Regions from separate parts of the Homo sapiens genome. Here region 1 is linked to region 2. Evidence: fine-mapped expression QTL. Tissue or cell type: whole blood. Region 2 holds a variant in brackets; the other region holds the start of a gene. All regions are shown on one strand. Distances are from middle to middle.

Region 1 (8,334 bases), 37 kb after region 2:
TTTGCAAATTTACTTTTAGGAAACATGATAAAGAAAAGCAACATATTCCACAGGCATCCCAAGTAAAGCATTATAAATTCATATTCTCTCTTGCACTGATTTAAATGGGAAGCAAGTAAGAAAAGGGAAAACCCTTACGGTTCTCAGATGAAACTTCGCTGCTTTCATCCACCTCCACATACCGTGTCAGGGTCAGAAAAACACTCCAAATAGATACTTCTGTCACTTTGCTAAACCAACGAAGCTGCTACCATCGCCAGCAGTATGTTCACGCTACTTTCCTGAGGTCTGTGTTCTAATCATCAGAACTTTTAAAAATTACATACTTTTTTTAAAAATCCTTTTTCTGAACCAGCCTCAGCACCAAAACATTGGTCTCTGCTTCAAGGTTCCCCATTTTAACTGAAGAGGAATGAAAAACCAAATGCCTTCAAGTCCTGAAGGAGTTGCTTCTTCCTGTGTTCAAAGTTGAAGAGAGTAGTGTGCTTTTTCTTCCACTGCCCTGTTTGGTTTCTGCCTTTAGAATACAAAGATGTGTTTCACTCCTGGACACCTAACAGGCTGAGATTTACATGTGAGAAAACATCCCCCAGGTTATTACCAAGGAGGCAAAAATTGCTCCCACCCAGTTTAGCTGCCTTTCAGGAAAGAGACTGGAAAAATGGAAACGAGGGAGGGGAAGGAGATTCTATCTGAAGCTGAGGACAAGTAACACAGGTGAATCCAAAGTAATGGAGGCAAATATTAAAAAGAATATTATTTATTATCTTCTTTATTAATACTCACATGTAACCTTTGCTTTTTACACAAAAGTCTGCTTTAGAAGAATGCCTCCTCGGCTTATCATGCCCAATGGGGCTTTTTGTTTCTGGACCACTTCCCCTTTCTCCACCCCCACCCCCACATCCAAATTACTCTTAACATGTTCACAGATACCACGAATATTTTGTAAACAAGATTTGGGTTACTGGAACTTGATTTCATTAACATCCCACTTCAAAATGGAAGGCAGGTGGAGGACAGGGTAAGAAATAGGAGAAAGAGGACAAGAGAAGGCAAAGAAGAAGAGGGGCACCTGGTCAGAACGTTCAAGTCTTGCCTTTTCTTAGGGGTGTGTATTTTGTGGCTGTTCCTTGAAATGCACTGACTCAAAACATTGACAGCAAGTGTGTGTGTGATTATTTATATATCTATAATAGAATATGTGGGCTTCCTCCGTTTGAGTCTGGACTGTGTTTATTTAAACACACTACGATCCTCTTTATAGGTATCACCACAGGGAATCAGGTCTCCTGGGAACCCCTTTTAGAGACGGGGCTTCCGAAGCAGGGTCTTGCTGAGGTCTTTGACCTCCTCAGGGCTGTTGACCCGCTCATAGCCCAGGACGGCCATGGGCTGGTAGCAAAACTCCTCCACCTGTTTGATCTGCTGGAAGGTGAGGGCGGTCCGCCAGGCATTGGCGGCCTGCGTGGCATTGCGTGCAGATACCACGAAAGGCTTGGAGGAGGAGCCCGAGCCACTGGTCATGTTCAGGGCAAACTGCTCCATTTCGGGGCTCACCAACAGTCCCACAAAATCGTACACTCTCCGTAGTGTCTTGACGGGGTCTCCCACCAGGTCCTCGTACCGCACCACCAGGTAGTGGCCCTGCAGCCAGTCAGGGGGCTGCAGGGCTGTCTGCAGCGTCTTAGCCATACTATTGCAGATGACCTCCATAGCGCCCAGAGCGTGGTAGTCTGCGGGGCCGCCCACGCCCTCCTTCTTGGCGCCAAGCTTGTGGCCCGCGGCCTCCAAGAAGGGCATGCGGTGAGCTCGCGGGTCTCGGCTGCGCACCACCTGTAGGCTCTCACGGATGAGGCCGTGGCGCGAGCGGATCCGTGAACTCGCCACCGCGCGGGGATCACGCACCAAGTGGATGACCTTGAGGTCCAGGGCCGGGTCTCGCAGCAGTGGCGCCAAGACCGCCACGTCGAAGACGCGCACACCCTTTATGACTAGTGTGCGGTACTTGCGGCACTCCTCCTCGAAACGCGCCAGGCGCTGTGGCGGGCACTTCTTGCACACGCGGTCGTCCACCAACCCCACGACCTCCTTGCGGTAGGCGGGGCAGAGTGGTGACGAGCACACCACCTTGTTGGTGGCTGCGCCGAAGATGCCCAGCGTGGTGAGGTTGCGCCCCCCGCTGCCCGCGGGGCTATACAACTGGAAGACAGAGAGGTCGCAGCGGTAAAGAGCGCTCAGCATGTCCCGCGCTGCCCCCTGCAGGGAAACGGCGTCCCCCGGATACAGTTTTTGCCATACATGCCACACTGGCTCGTAGAGAAAGAACACCTCGGGATTCTGGTTGAATAGCTCGCCGAAGAACGACGAGCCAGAGCGCCACGTGGTGAACACGTACACCAGCTGCCGCTTGTCCCCGACGCCCCCGGTGCCCCGAGTGCCATTGCCTGGAGGGGCCGCAACCCCCGCCATCCCTGCCGCGGCTGCAGGAGCCGCCCCGACGGCGGCAGCGGGAGGGCGGTAAGGAGTGCGGAGGTCCAAACGGGCATGAGCACGGGGCGGCCCGGCCGGAGGCGGCCCTGGGCGCCCCCAGCTGCCTCCGGCTGCCCCCGCTGCGGCACCCAGCGGCCCATCGGGGTTGCACTGCTGCAGCGGCTCCTTGTGCCACTTGTAGTCCAGGAGGTTGAGCATAGTGAGCACCAGCAGCAGTGCATAGCCCGCGCACAACACCAGCGCCTTCCTACGGAACACCTTCATTCCGAGAGGGGACGCGGGCCAGCGGCGTCCTGGGCGCCGGGGCCACTGCGGGAGCAGGGCACGCGGCGCGGCTGCAGGCGCAGCCTGGAGCAGCCGAGGGAGCGCGCCCGGGGGCAGAGCTCGCTGCGGGCTGCGGCTCATCACAGGCACAATCCGGGCCGGCGGCGCGGCGGAGGCAGCCCTGCAGCCCGGGAAGGGGACGCAGCGGGCTGGCTGCTGGCGCCGGGACTCGGGCCGCGACTCCGAGGCGGGCGCGGCGGCTGGTCCCCAGCGCCCAAGGCTGGCTCTCCCATGGCAGCGGCTCCGGGTAGGACCTGCGAGGGGAAGCGGAGTGAGCGGATGCGCCCCAATCTCCCTCCCAGCCTCCTCCTCCTAAGTAACGCCCACCCTCGGTTCTGCCCGGTTCCTCCGCTCACCTGGAGCCGAGGGCGCGCCCGGGAGCGGCCCCGGATCACCGCCCGGCGGACTGTCCGGCTGTCACTCGTTCCTCGATTTCGCTCCCTCTCGCTTCCGCTGGGGGTCCCCGCACCTTCGAGGGGTCTGGGGAGTCGGCCGACTTATCCCTGGGCAGTTTCCGGGCAGCGGGCGCCCTGCGGCTCGGGAAGAAAAACTTTCACGCGGCCCAGAGCCCCGCTCCGCGCTCCGCCGAACCCGGCGCCTCCCGGCTCCAGCGACGTCTCCTCCGCTTTCTCGGGACCGCAGCTTCCTGTCTCGCTCAGGGGAACGAAGCCGGCTGGGGGCGATGGCTGGGGGCGGCTTATATGGGACTCAGCTCCCGGCATAGCGGCGCAGCCCCTCTCGCTTTCGGCCTCCGTGCGGCGAATTTTCCCACCTCTCTGGCAGCGGTGGATGGGGCACAGCGCGACCCCGCAGCGGCGGCGGCGGCTGCTTCCATCACCGGGAGGATGCCCGGGCGGACAGCGCAGGCAACCCCCGCCGCTCCGCAGCCTCCGACTGGACCAAAGGACCCCGAACACACAGCTCTAGGCAAGGAAACCCAGGTGTGCAGCACTGCCCGACCCGACCCAACCCGCCCCCGGTACCAGCGCTTCTGGCCAACGAGGTATTTAAGCAAAGAAAGACCCCGCCGCAGCCGCCGCCGCCGCGCGAAAGCGGCGCCCAGGAGGATGCTGCTACCCGACTCCCCTTACGCCGGGCGCCCGCAACGCGCTCGGACCAGCCTCTGCGCGGCTCCTGCCAGCCGGCGCCCGGTTGGTGCGCGCCGCCGTCTGTCGCCGCGGCTCCTCCCCTCCGCCGCGCAGCCCTCCCCCTTCGCCGGCCCCGCCCCCGCCCCCAACGCCGAGCCGGCTCCCACCGTCGCTGCGCCTCGGGGGCTGGAGACGCGACCCGCTTTACCGCGACGCGCGGGGGCTGCAGTCCACGGGTCCGAAGGCTTAGCTCTGCGCGCAAAGCGCCGGGATGCGAACGCGGGATCTGGAGCTCGTCGGTGCCGAGAGCTGCCAGAGAGTTGGATTCTGCGTGCAGCTGCCGGACTCGGCCCCATGTTTTTGCTCTCAGAAAGAGTTGGTGATGAAGTTTGGGCAGAAATCCCCTGTCGGCCGTCCGCTCCACGCTTCCCTCGGGGCCGACACTGCCAACCTCTCCGGGCACTGAGGACACCTCTGCGCCCTGGAGCGGTGGGAGGACGCGGAGCGCCGTTCTCTGGCTTCCGACACCCTGCCCGCCCTCTCTAGTGGGTCTGTGGCTGCGCCCTCTCGAAGGAAGTAATAAATCTTTCTGACCTTGGGGGTCAGAGGAGACGCTTCAGTTTTCCGGAGGGGTGTGCGGGCGGGACCGTCTTTCCGCTTTACTGGACCTCTGGCCGGGGCTGCTCTTGTTTCATTGTGCCCCACATGCGGAGCCCCGATGCTCTCCGCATTTCCGCTCGCGGTGCTGCGTCCACTGTGATTGACGTCCTCTGGAATTGGGGTGATGGGGGAGGGGAACGCCCCGTTCTAATTTGCAGAAAAATACTTGTCCCGCTTCTTGGTTTTGTAGATGAGATCAAAGAACTTGACCCCAAAGGAAACACCGTTGTTGAAAGAAAATCATTTTTCAGTTGCTTTAGGTTTAAGTACTTTTGTTTAAGGTTATGAGGAAAAGCGTCTCTCTCTCCCCCCAACTCCCTCCCTCCCCAAGAACACTAAGCTGTAGCCTCAACTTCATCTGTAGAATGGGGACAGTTGTAACAGCCTCCGGAGACTGAACGGTGGTTGAGTATCAGAGCGCGCACACGAAAGGTTAGACCTGAGTTCAGGCCTCCAAGTGCCGAAAAGGGAATCTCCGTGGGGCCTGAGGCTCAGCACCCTCGGATAAACAGAGCTCTCGCTGATCCGGAGTTTTGTTGCCTCCTGTCCCAGTAGAGTTTTTAGAAGTTACTGCACAATTATCTTTGTAGCGTTTCGGGCAGACTTTTCAGAGGACCGTTCTAACATTAAAATATTGCTGTTTGCGCCATTATTCTTCCATGAGTCTTACAGAATCCCCTGAGTACAAAGACTTGAAAAGTGACTTAACTCGCTTTCCACGGGTTTTTAACTCTCTTACGGATTTAGTTTCAGGGGAGAAAAATGTTCAAAAAACTTATTTATCCTTGTTTTCCAGAAAAACCCATAATGTCACGAGTACAGTTCAGCTTATTTTTTCTCCTGGGGAGGGGGATTGGGACAAGGACAGCAGAGCTCAAATTTTATATCCAGCTTTCTCAAATAATATGGCATTGCCTCTGGAAGTGGGTCGAGACAGGCAAGAATCCCTGTTAACAGATGAAGGTGGTAGAGTTTAATTGAGCGACTCCCCATCTTTTCCTTTTCTGGAATCCCCAGCCTCCCTTCGCCTACTCTCTCAAATGCCCCTGCCCCTTTTTCACCACCTCTTTTACCACGAAAACTAAAATGACATTGGTGCATGAAAAGACTGATGGGAGAGAGAGGGAATTGGGGAGGAAAGTAAATCTCAATTTTAATATTCAACATGATTCCAAGAAAAATAATTTCTAATATTTTTCATTTAGTTTCTGGCTTTGTGCTTACCCAGAAAAAAACTGAATTGCATTAGTCGATGTAGGGACCCTTTTTAAAAACAATTGTTTGCATAGAAATAATTCCGTTTGCAATTTTGTAACACTTTACTGGTGTTGGCAAAATAGTAAATCCATTTGCCAGGTGCCCCCACAGTGCTCAGCTGGCATAAATTTACGGGTTCTGGCATCTCCACCCTCTCCTTGCTTGCAAATTTTTCCCATTTTGCATGGTGTCATGATTAATTCTGAACTTTGTTATAGCTAATGACATCTGAAAACTTCATAATGCCTTCCTTCCCGCATTTGTTTGGAAATTCCTTTCATTTTAATCTACTTATTTTAGCATAGTAATGACCCAGACATATAATATGTCACATAATAATGTCACTTGCACAAGAGCCAGTCATGCCACAGGGCTAGCCTTAATTTCGGCTCACTGGTTTAGTTTGTCACAATTCCATCTCCCCCAGGATGCTCTTTCAGTCTCTGTCTTCTCTGCTGCCTGTTATGTTCTATTGGAAACTGTCAGGCCTCTGAGCCAAAGCTAAGCCATCATATCCCCTGTGACCTGCATGTACACATCCAGATGGCTGGTCCTTGCCTTAACTGATGACATTCCACTACAAAAGAAGTGAAAATGGCAGGTCCTGCCTTAACTGATGACATTACCTTGTGAAATTCCTTCTCCTGGCTCATCCTGGCTCAAAAAGCTCCCCCACTGAGCACCTTGTGATCCCCCCCTCCACACCTGCCCACCAGAGAACAACCCCCTTTGACTGTAATTTTCCTTTACCTGCCCAAATCCTATAAAACGGCCCCACGCCTATCTCCCTTCACTGACTCTCTTTTCGGACTCAGCCCGCCTGCACCCAGGTGATTAAAAAGCTTTATTGCTCACACAAAGCCTGTTTGGTGGTCTCTTCACACTGATGCGAGTGAAAGAAACTTGCTGTGGCTTTTGCTTAATCCTGGACAAATGTCCAGAGATCTTCAAGGACTTTCTTCCAGAGTCTGAACTGGGGAAAGATGCAAGGCTGGGTTACCTGAACAGTTCCCATTTGGGCCTATCTGTGTGAATCCTAGAAGATTCACCTTTGGAAAATGTTTGCCCCTGGGCACCAAGATAGATTCACTCCCTCATATTTTGAACAAATATGCATTTTCAATAGAACTTGAGATTATAGATTCAGGTTACTCATAATCCTTGATTTAAGATATGCTGCCATTGTTAGTCCAAGTGGCCCTTTTAAATGTCCTATGTTTTAATATAATGAATATGCATGAACCCATTACACAGCCCAAAAACCTCCAAGAGTAACCGCTCTACTTAGTTTAGAAACTGAGATGAAATGATAAAGTTCTAACAGGAAGGAAAAACAACTTGCTTTAACAATCTCAAAAAGATACAAGACTACTTATGGCCGGGCACGGTGGCTCATGCCTGTAATCCCAACACTTTGGGAGGCTGAGGTGGGCATATCACTTGAGCCTAGGAGCTTGAGACCAACCTGGGCAACATGGCAAAACCCCATCTCTACAAAAACTACAAAAAAATTAGCCAAGTGTGGCAGTGCATGCCTGTAGTCCCAGCAACTCGGGAGACTGAGATGGGAGAATTACCTGACCCCAGGAGGTCAAGGCTGCAGTGAGCCATAATGGTGCCACTGCACTCCAACCTGGGCAACAGAGTGAGACCCAGTCTCAAAAAAAAAAAAAAGAAAAAGAGGTTGGGCACGGTGGCTCACACCTGTAATCCCAGCACTTTGGGAGGCCGAGTTGGGCAGATCACCCGAGGTCAGGAGTTTGAGACCAGGCTGAAACCCCGTCTCTGCTAAAAATACAAAAATTAGCCTGGTTTGGTGGTGCGCACCTGTAGTCCCAGCTACTCGGGAGGCTGAGGCAGGAGAATTGCTTGAACCCGGGAGGCAGAGGTTGCAGTGAGCCAAGATCGCGCCACTGCACTCCAGCCTGGGCAACAGAATGAGACTCTGTCTCAAAAAAAAAGAAAAGGAAGGAAAAGAAAGAAAAAGAAGAAAAACAGTACTTACAAATTGAAACAACACTATTACCAGAGGGATTTAAAGGAGGGTTCCACCAAACTTTCAAGAACTAGATTGTTTCAGTCTTATCTCTATCAGAGAAGAGAACAAGAGGGAATATTTCCCCCAACTCATTCAAAGGGGATAATAACTACAGAGGGATTTCAGAGAAGAAATTTGGTACTGTCTCTGATTAATTTATACATAAAACTCTTAAATAAAATATAAGCAAAACAAATCCACTCAAGTGGGGAAAAAAGGACAATAAACTAGAACCAATTTGGGTTTATCCCAGAAATATAAGGATGACAATAAATATTTAGTAAGCACCTATAATGTACCAGGTGCTGGTCTAGCTATGTGAGATGCAAAAGTGAAGCAGACAGGCCTAGACCCTACCTTCATGAAGTTTACACTCTAGAGTGGGAGATACTCAGTGCACACACATTTAAACAAATAAGATTATTTTTGAGAATGGTAAGTACTATAGAAGAAATAAAATATTAATGTGATGGA
Region 2 (8,334 bases):
GCCACAGCTCTGCTCAGCCTGCTTCACACCTGTCTTATGAGGGTCAGTGGAGACAGTGTGTGTGAGCTGCTTTGTAAACTAAATTTGCCAGAAAACCATAGCTTTGTCATAAATATGAAATGTGTATGAACTACTGGACACACAGGAATTACAAAAGAAACTGAGGAGTGAATCATGAAGCACTGTCAGACAAGGCAGCTTCTAAGGAGTCCTGAAGATGTCGTTCTGAATAATTAAAAAGCAAATCTTCCCAGAAGATGTAAGGTTATAGAGCTGAGCTGTGGGCGGGGAGGTCCACACTGGAAGCTCAAAGAACCCCAGGAAATGCAGCTGAGAAGCAGAGCCCTTGGAGGACAGGAATGTCTGGGAGCCCGGAAAGCCACAGGCCTGGGGCCCACCGAGAGGGTAACACAGTGACTGAGAGGTTAAAGTAATTCTGCAAAACAGCTTGTCCCTTAGAGCAGTTTCCCTCCCAAGGACACCATCAGCAGGAAATCATGGGGCGGTCGTGAGAGACCGAAGTCCCCCGGGGAGAGGTTAGGTATCCTATAGAGAAACACAGGGGTGAGGACGGACAGCAGCATCCGGCGACTCAGAAGGAATTAAAAAGCCAAATGGCAGAGTGTGTGACATAGATATGAAATCCAGGTTCTATGAAGAGAAACCCTCCTGATTCCACAGCCAATGAGAAGGTGAGCTTCCAAATCCTGTTCGTGGGATCCGTGGGTGACCCCTAGTACCAGGACACAGTCAAGAATTTCTGTTTCCACAAGCAAAGTTAAGTGGAGAATTCAGCAAATCTGTTGGGAAACCAGGGACAAAGAACTCGGACTTTTTCAAAAAAGGGCTGTCTGTTGTTTCCTTCAGCTAAATTATGAGAATACATTCTCAGCTCTACCTTGTAAAAATGAAAAGAGTCTTGCAGGGAAGGACAAGTCTCACCATTTCAGAAACTCAAGAAGCAGTTTGATTGTCAAATCAAATCAGTCTATAAACATTTTTCTAAAAGTCTCCTCAGGTCTTTGCAATCTTTTAGAATTATCTGAAGAAAACAACAGCAATGGGGAATCTCCTACCAGATATGAAGAAATTTGCTTAAAATATATATGTACATGCACAGCAACTCAATTACCCACACCAATGTAATTTTGTTTTTCCTTACCAATGTAAGGAAAAACAGGAAATTCACAAACAGCTATGAAGCCACACAATATCAGTGGCCACCATTTACTAAGGTCTTGCCCTAGCAAGGAAGGACTTACGACAAGCACCTCACATACAGGAGCTCATGTAATCCTCCAGAAAACTCAGTGTTAATAACAACACTGGCAACTTATGCACATTATTTCATTTAGTTCTCAGATCAAATCTTGGAAGAAGGTACTACCATTATCCCATTTTACTGATAAGGAAAAGATGAAAAGACACTAAGTAACTTGCCCACGATCATATAGCTAATGAGTGTGCACCAGAGAATCAACCCAAGTATCTAAACCCATTGCTCCTACCTCTGACTCTGCTAGACCCTCTCCATATTTTACAGATTAGGCAACTGAGCCTTAAAGAAGTTAAATAACATCAAAGAATATATAGCCAGTGTGTGGTCACATCAGGATTTGAACTCCAGTCATTCTACTTACAAAGCTTATGCTCTTAAGCTTGGTATTAGATTAAACTGACTCTCATACCCAACCTAATTTCTAGTTGGATGTTATTTGAGGTTTTCATAAAATGTGAAATTGGGAAAATCCTAGTGCTTCAAACCAACACCCAAGCCCTATAGCAGAGGGCTGGTTGAAAAGAGCTGGGATAAATGTCTGAGGGACCTGTCCTGACCATAGGTTTTGTACTGCCCTGAAGGATGGCCCAGAACACCACTCAGACAACAGCAAAGCCAACCCCACCTGCTCATAACAGCCCTGGCAGTGAGGATTGGAATACTTGTAGGAAACATGGAAAAGGGGAGTCTATTGTTTTGTTGTTTTATTGATAAATTAACTTATTTCTCACATTAAATGGGAGGAAGATGAGTACCTCATAGAATGTAGTGAACATCTGCTGTTTGGGGTTTACCACCTGCTCCCACTGGGGACTCTCTATTCAAGGTGTTCTGCCTTCCCACCAAAGATGAGCATGTGACCCAGGCTATGGCCAAGGGAAACCCTCAAGAATTGAATCTTGAGGGGAGAGACACATAAAGAAGTTTCTGGACTTGACTCATCCTAGCAGCCATGCCCTGGACACAGTGATGGCTGGTTCCTGTTACTGTGCTTCCTGGGGTTTCCCCAGTCACTGTTGTCCCGAAACAAGATCCAACAGCTGCTCCTTTAATTCTGTGAGCTGCCTCATAGCCTCCAGCACATTTCTTTTTCTCTTACGTTAGCTAGGATTGGTTCCTGTTGCCTGCAACCAAAAAAAATCCTAACTGAATTTCAAGTGACCAGGGAGATGCATCATTTGGCACTGGTGAACTGCATCAGAATCCACTACAGAAATCAAGAGGTGACTAATGTGGAAGAGCTAATGTGTGGAGAACTGTGGGCTATTTCAGGAGACAAGGACATGAGGGAATCAGCTCTGATTGCATTGGGTTTCTGCACAGTTCTACACCCCTGAAATCTTCTGTCCCTTGCATGATTCACATCTTTCACTGTTATTCACCATTTAAACCCCCAGATTTGTTGTCCTATGATAAGTGGCTCAGCTGTCTAGAACATGATGCTAATGAGGGCAGCACTTCTGACTTGATTCTTGTGGGCCAGTTACCTTAGTTCTGAGTCACAGACACTTGAAACCTGGTCAAAGCTCTTTTGACATTTCATGGAGCCAAAGTAATGAGGTTGATGGACAGCACTAATCAGTGCCACAAATTCAGGTTCAGCTCATATTTCTTAAGGCCCTTCTCCATGCCAGGTAGTGCATTAGGCACTCCAAATGCATGACCTCATTGGCTGTCCAGTAAGCACTGTGACAAATGAACTTAACTGAATTACAAATGAATGACATAACTACATTGAAGAAGGTGAGGAAGAAAGGATCTGAACTAAGTCACTTTGGAAAACAGTATCTTGACTGGACACTATAAGGCTAAAGACAAAAAGAATGTACATAAATACTGTACTCTAGTTGGTAAATTTGTTTCTCACAAGCGTGCTAAGTTAGCAATTCTGAAACTACTTTGTGTGCTAGTGTTGAACATTATAAGTAAACATATTATAGATAATGAAAACCAAGTTTCTTTCTGTTAGAGAAAGAAGTTATCAATAAAGAAAGGGAGATGGCTAGAATAAACCCTGTGGGGCTGGATTGGAGCCAGAGATAGCAGTGTGAACTTATGGCTATTTTATTTTATTCTGGCAAAATATACATAACATAAAACTTACCATCTTAATCCTTTTTAGGTGTACAATGCAATGATATTAAGTACATTCACATCGTTATGCAACCATCACCATCTACCTCCAGAATTTTTCTATCCTTCTGAACTGAAATGTTCATGCCCTTTGAACAATAACTCCCCATTGTCCCCTCCATCCAGCTCCTAGTAACCACCAGTCTACTTTCATTCCTCTATGAACTTGACTATTCTAGATACTTCATATAAGTGGGATCACGTAACATTTATCCTTTTGTGTCTGGCTTATTTCACTTTGCATAATGTTTTCAAGGTTCATCCATGTTGCAGCATGCATAAAAACTTCATTCCTTAAGGTTGTATAATATTCCATTGTATGCATATGCCACATTTTGTTTATCCATTCATCCATTAATAGGCATTTGAGCTTCTTCCACCACCTTTTGGCTATTGTGAATAATGTTGCTATGGACTTTACAGTACAAATGTCTGACCAAGTCTCTGCTTTTGATTCTTTGGGGTATATACATAAAAGTGGAATTGCTGGATCATCTGGTAGTTTTACATTTCACTTTTTTTAGGGACTGCCATATTGTCTTCCACAGTGACTGCACCATTTTATACTCCCTAAGGCAATACGCAAGGGTTCTAATTTCTCCATATTCTCACCAACACTTGTTTTCTGTTTTGAGGATAATAGCCATCCTAAGAGGCGTGATGTGGTACCTCATTGAGGTTTCAATTTGCATTTCCCTAATGATTTCTGATGTTGAGTGTTTTTTCATGTACTTCTTGGCCATTTGTATATCTCCCTTGAAGAAATATCAGTATCAAGTCATTTGCTCATGTTTAATTGAACTGCTTTGTTGTGGTGGTTTTTACTAAGTTTTTGGAGTTCTTTAAATATCCTGGATATTAATCTCTTACCAGTATATGATTTACAAAAGTTTTCTCCCATTTTGTAGGTTGCCTTTATCTTCTAGATAGTATCCTTTGATGCACAAAAAATTAATTTTGATGAAATCCAATTTATCTATTTTTTGGCATAATATCCAAGAAATCATTGCTAAATCCAGTCACTAAGCTTTTCTCGTGTGTTTTCTTCTAAGAGTTTTATAGTTTTAGCTCTTATGTTTAAGTCTTCAATCCATTTTGAGTTAACTTTTGTGCAGGGTGTAAGAAGTATTTCATGATTTCAAAATTTTGTGCGTGGCATAAGGAGTATTTCCTGATTTTAAAGTATCAGGAAATATTTCCAAAAGCTGATACCTCCAGCTTTATTGTTCTTTTTCAAGATTGACTTCGCTACTCATGGTCTTTTGTGGTTCTATATAAATTTTGGAATTTTTTTTATTTCTGTAAAGAAAGTGCCATTGAGATTTTGATAGGGATTGTTTTGAATGCATAGATCACTTTGGGTAGTATGGGCATCTTAACAATATTAAGTCTTCCAATTAATTAACATGGGATATCTTTCCATTTATTTACATCTTCTTTGATTTCTTTCAGCAATGTTTTGTAGTTTTTAGTGTTCAAATCTTTTACCCTCTTGGTTAAGTGTATTCCTACTATTTTATTCTCTTTGATGTTAATGTAAACGGTCCTTTCAGATCGTTCATTGCTAGTCTATAAAAATGCAGCTGTTTTCTTGGTGTGGTGATTTTGTAACCTGCAAGTTTGCACGATTCATTT[A/T]TTACTTAACAGTTTACTTGTGCAATCTTTAGAATTTTCTACCTGTAAGTTTACGTCATCTGTGAACAGAGATAATTTTACTTCTTCCTTTCCAATTTGAATGCCTTTCATTTCTTTTTCTTGCCTAGTTGTTCTAGCTTGCCTAATTGCTGTAGGACTTCCAGTCCTGTGTTAAATAGAAGTGGTGAGAGTGACTGAGTATGATGCATTGGATTTTGAAATAGAAATAGACACTTAGTAAAAAAAACAAAAACTGGGAAAATTCTAATAAAGCCTATAGTTTAGTTAATAGTATTATACCAGTGTTCATCTCTTAGTTTTCATAATTATACTGTAGTTATTTAAGATTTTAATGCTAGAGGAAGCTTGGTAAAGAGTATATGGGAACCCCGCACTATTTTTGTAACTCCTCTGTAAATCATAAATGATCTCAAAATAAGTTTTTTAATATCTGAAGGAAAATAAAAGCATACAGAGTAAATACATTGGGAGTCCTGAAATATCTTTCTAGGCAAATAAGGCATACTTTCACTTTTCATTAGTTAATTACCCATAGTAAGTGTCCACCACCTCTGCCACTCTGGTATATAAAGTCCTAGAGGGCAACTGGCCAGACATCACATTAAAGAAGCACTATGGCACTGGACTGAGTCAATTCTGAATTTCAGCTTTGGGGATTTCTCAGGGCAAAGTTGTTTAATATCTCTGAAATATGAAAATATCTTTCCAGGATTGTTGTGAATATTAAATAAGGTCATGGTTAAAAAAGCACTTAATCCATGGCAGGTATTTAATAAATATCCTTTCTTTTCTCTTGTTTTAAACATTTAAGACTACAAAGGGAAAACGAGATATGGTACCTTTCACATAAGGGCCTTACATTCTAAATTGGGACAAAATGTACACATATGTTAAATAATTATCAAATAATAGCTTTACATTCTATTACAAGCAAGTGCTAAGATCCAGTAGCGAGTGGGACAGTGTGCAGCAGAGCACAGCACACACAAAAGTAGAGAAATGTGAGCTGGCATCCCCGGGGCAGCCTTCAAAGGAGTGGGGCTGTACTGAGCTTGGTGTGCACAGATAAGAAAATGTTGGGGGTGGTCGGGTGCGGTGGCTCACACCTGTAATCCCAACACTTTGGGAGGCCAAGGTGAGTGGATCACCTGAGGTCAGGCATTCGAGACCAGCCTAGCCAACATGGTGAAACCCCGTCTCTACTAAAAAATACAAAAAATTAGCCAGGCCTGGTGGTGGACACCTGTAATCCCAGCTACTCAGGAGGCTGAGGCAGGAGAATCACTTGAACCCAGAAGGCAGAGGCTACAGTGATCCACTGTACTCCAGCCTGGGCAACAGAGCGAGACCCCATCTCAAAAAAAAAAAAAAAAAAGAGGAAAAAAGAAAAAAAGGAAAAGTTTGGGGCTGAGAGAGGCAATTGAGCCTAGGACAGGAAGAGGCAGAGACCTGAAGATACAAGTATATCTGGGTGGGTACCAGATAGTTCCACATTGCAGATACAGCAGATCAGTGGGAGACACATTCATTTGGAGCATGGAATAGATGTGAGGAACCAGGGGAACCATACTGACTAACGGGGAATGGAGCCAAATTCTGGAAAACCTGAAAGGCAGGCTGAGGGATTCTTTTCTCTTTTTTTTTAAACCGGGTCTCACTCCATCACCCAGGCTGGAGAGCTGCAGCACCGTCATAGCTCACTGCAACCTCGACCTCCCAGGCTCAAGCAATCCTCCTACCTCGGCCTCCTAACTAGCTGGGACTATAAGCATGTGCCACCATGCCTGGCTAATTTTTGTATTTTTGTAGAGACAGGGTTTCACCATGTTGCCCAGGCTGGTCTTGAACTCCTGGGCTCAAGTGATTCGCCTGCCTCAACCTCCCAAAGTGCTGGGATTACAGGCGTGAGCCCTCATACCCAGCAGGCGGCTGAGTCATTCTTGATGGCAGAGGCAAGAGCAGCTGTGGTGGATCCTTAAGTAAAGATGGAGCTCAAGGTAAGCATATAATGCTTTAGTTTGATCTGTGTTTGGTAGTCACAGAAGTGTTTTAAGCAAAGGAATCATAAGATCATAGCACGGTATCTTGAGCAGAGTTCTGTTGCAGGAAATCAAAACCACTTTGCCAATTTTAAGCAGAAATGTTAAATGCCTATAAAGTCATTGAAAGGGCTGCAGGACTGAACTCTAGGCCATTCTGTTAGAGGGATTGTAAATTGGTGAAGACTTTTTGGAAAGCTGTTGGATGACATCTATCAAAACTATAAACATGTATTATATTTGATTCAGTAATCGCATTCTAGAAAAAACTCAATTTTTAGAAAAATGTATTCTAGAAAAAAATTGACATATGAACATAAATATACAAGGTGTTCATGGGAATATTTTTTCTACTAATGAAAAATTAGGAACTCTCAAATGGAAGAGATTAAATAAAATATAGTATAAAAATATTATGCAGTCATTAGAAGAATATATTGAACCTTTATGGAAAGTTATCCCAAATTGTTCATTGAAAAAACAAGTCACAAAGCAAAATTCATAGTATTCCCATTTATGTGTTTTAAATGTGTACAGACTATACAAATGCAAAGCAGTGTTCATAGTGCTTGCCCCTTGGAGTAAAGCAAGAGTGATGGGGGCCTGCAGTGGACGAGTCTATCATGTTTTCCCCTGAATATTCCTGCCTTGTTGGAGTCTTTCATGAGAAGCATGCATTCATGTATTACTTGTGTGGTAAAAACATCAGTAACTGGTCACCTCCTTCAAACTCCTCCCTCAAACGCATTAAAGAAAACAAACCTGCACTTAATTCAGATCATGATGGGGCTGAAGGAGTACTGACATTCCTATCACATGAGAAATGAACCAGTGTCCATCTCAGGTAAGATGATGGCTGAAATGGAACAGCAGGCCAGTTTCTCATGATTTTGCTCTAGAGGACTGGGGCAGGAGGGAGGAGGGAATTTAATTTTTCTTTGGTGTGCCAGAAAAGGTAGTAGTCTGTACCAAAGGGGGTATATTGAAAGGATATGCACACTTTTGGAATTGTTTGCAAGACTAAAGATCTAGGCTTTGAAAACAGGCAGAGAATGGGAAGCTGGGCTGCCATGAGCACAGCCAAGTTCCCACGCAGGGTGTTATGAGGTCATCACCAGCAGAGCCAATGCCACACGGCTCTGCCTTCTGCAACTAACCTCCAGCAGACCCTGCATCCTTGCATGACTCCCTGAAAATGCCAAATCTTAATGCAAGCATCTTATTTTC

What was found.
Region 1: CHST2 starts here. The variant in region 2 is fine-mapped to the expression of CHST2 in whole blood (INTERVAL, PIP above 0.99).

What each region holds. Positions count from the first base shown.
Region 1 is chr3:143,115,381-143,123,714 of GRCh38, reverse strand. CHST2 (carbohydrate sulfotransferase 2) reads right to left here and starts at 3,944. Exons shown (of 2, transcript NM_004267.5): 1 at 3,174-3,944; 2 at 1-3,071. The coding sequence starts at 2,898. The coding sequence ends at 1,306. RefSeq lists enhancers at 342-471, 1,303-1,944, 2,587-3,228, 3,552-3,601, 3,887-4,386 and 2 more and silencers at 2,402-2,761, 2,822-3,021, 3,082-3,161, 3,212-3,261, 3,292-3,341 and 1 more.
Region 2 is chr3:143,152,695-143,161,028 of GRCh38, reverse strand. No RefSeq gene overlaps it. Among named protein-coding and RNA genes, the nearest start is that of CHST2, 37 kb to the right of the region's middle. The variant A/T (reference allele first, on the strand shown) is at 5,048.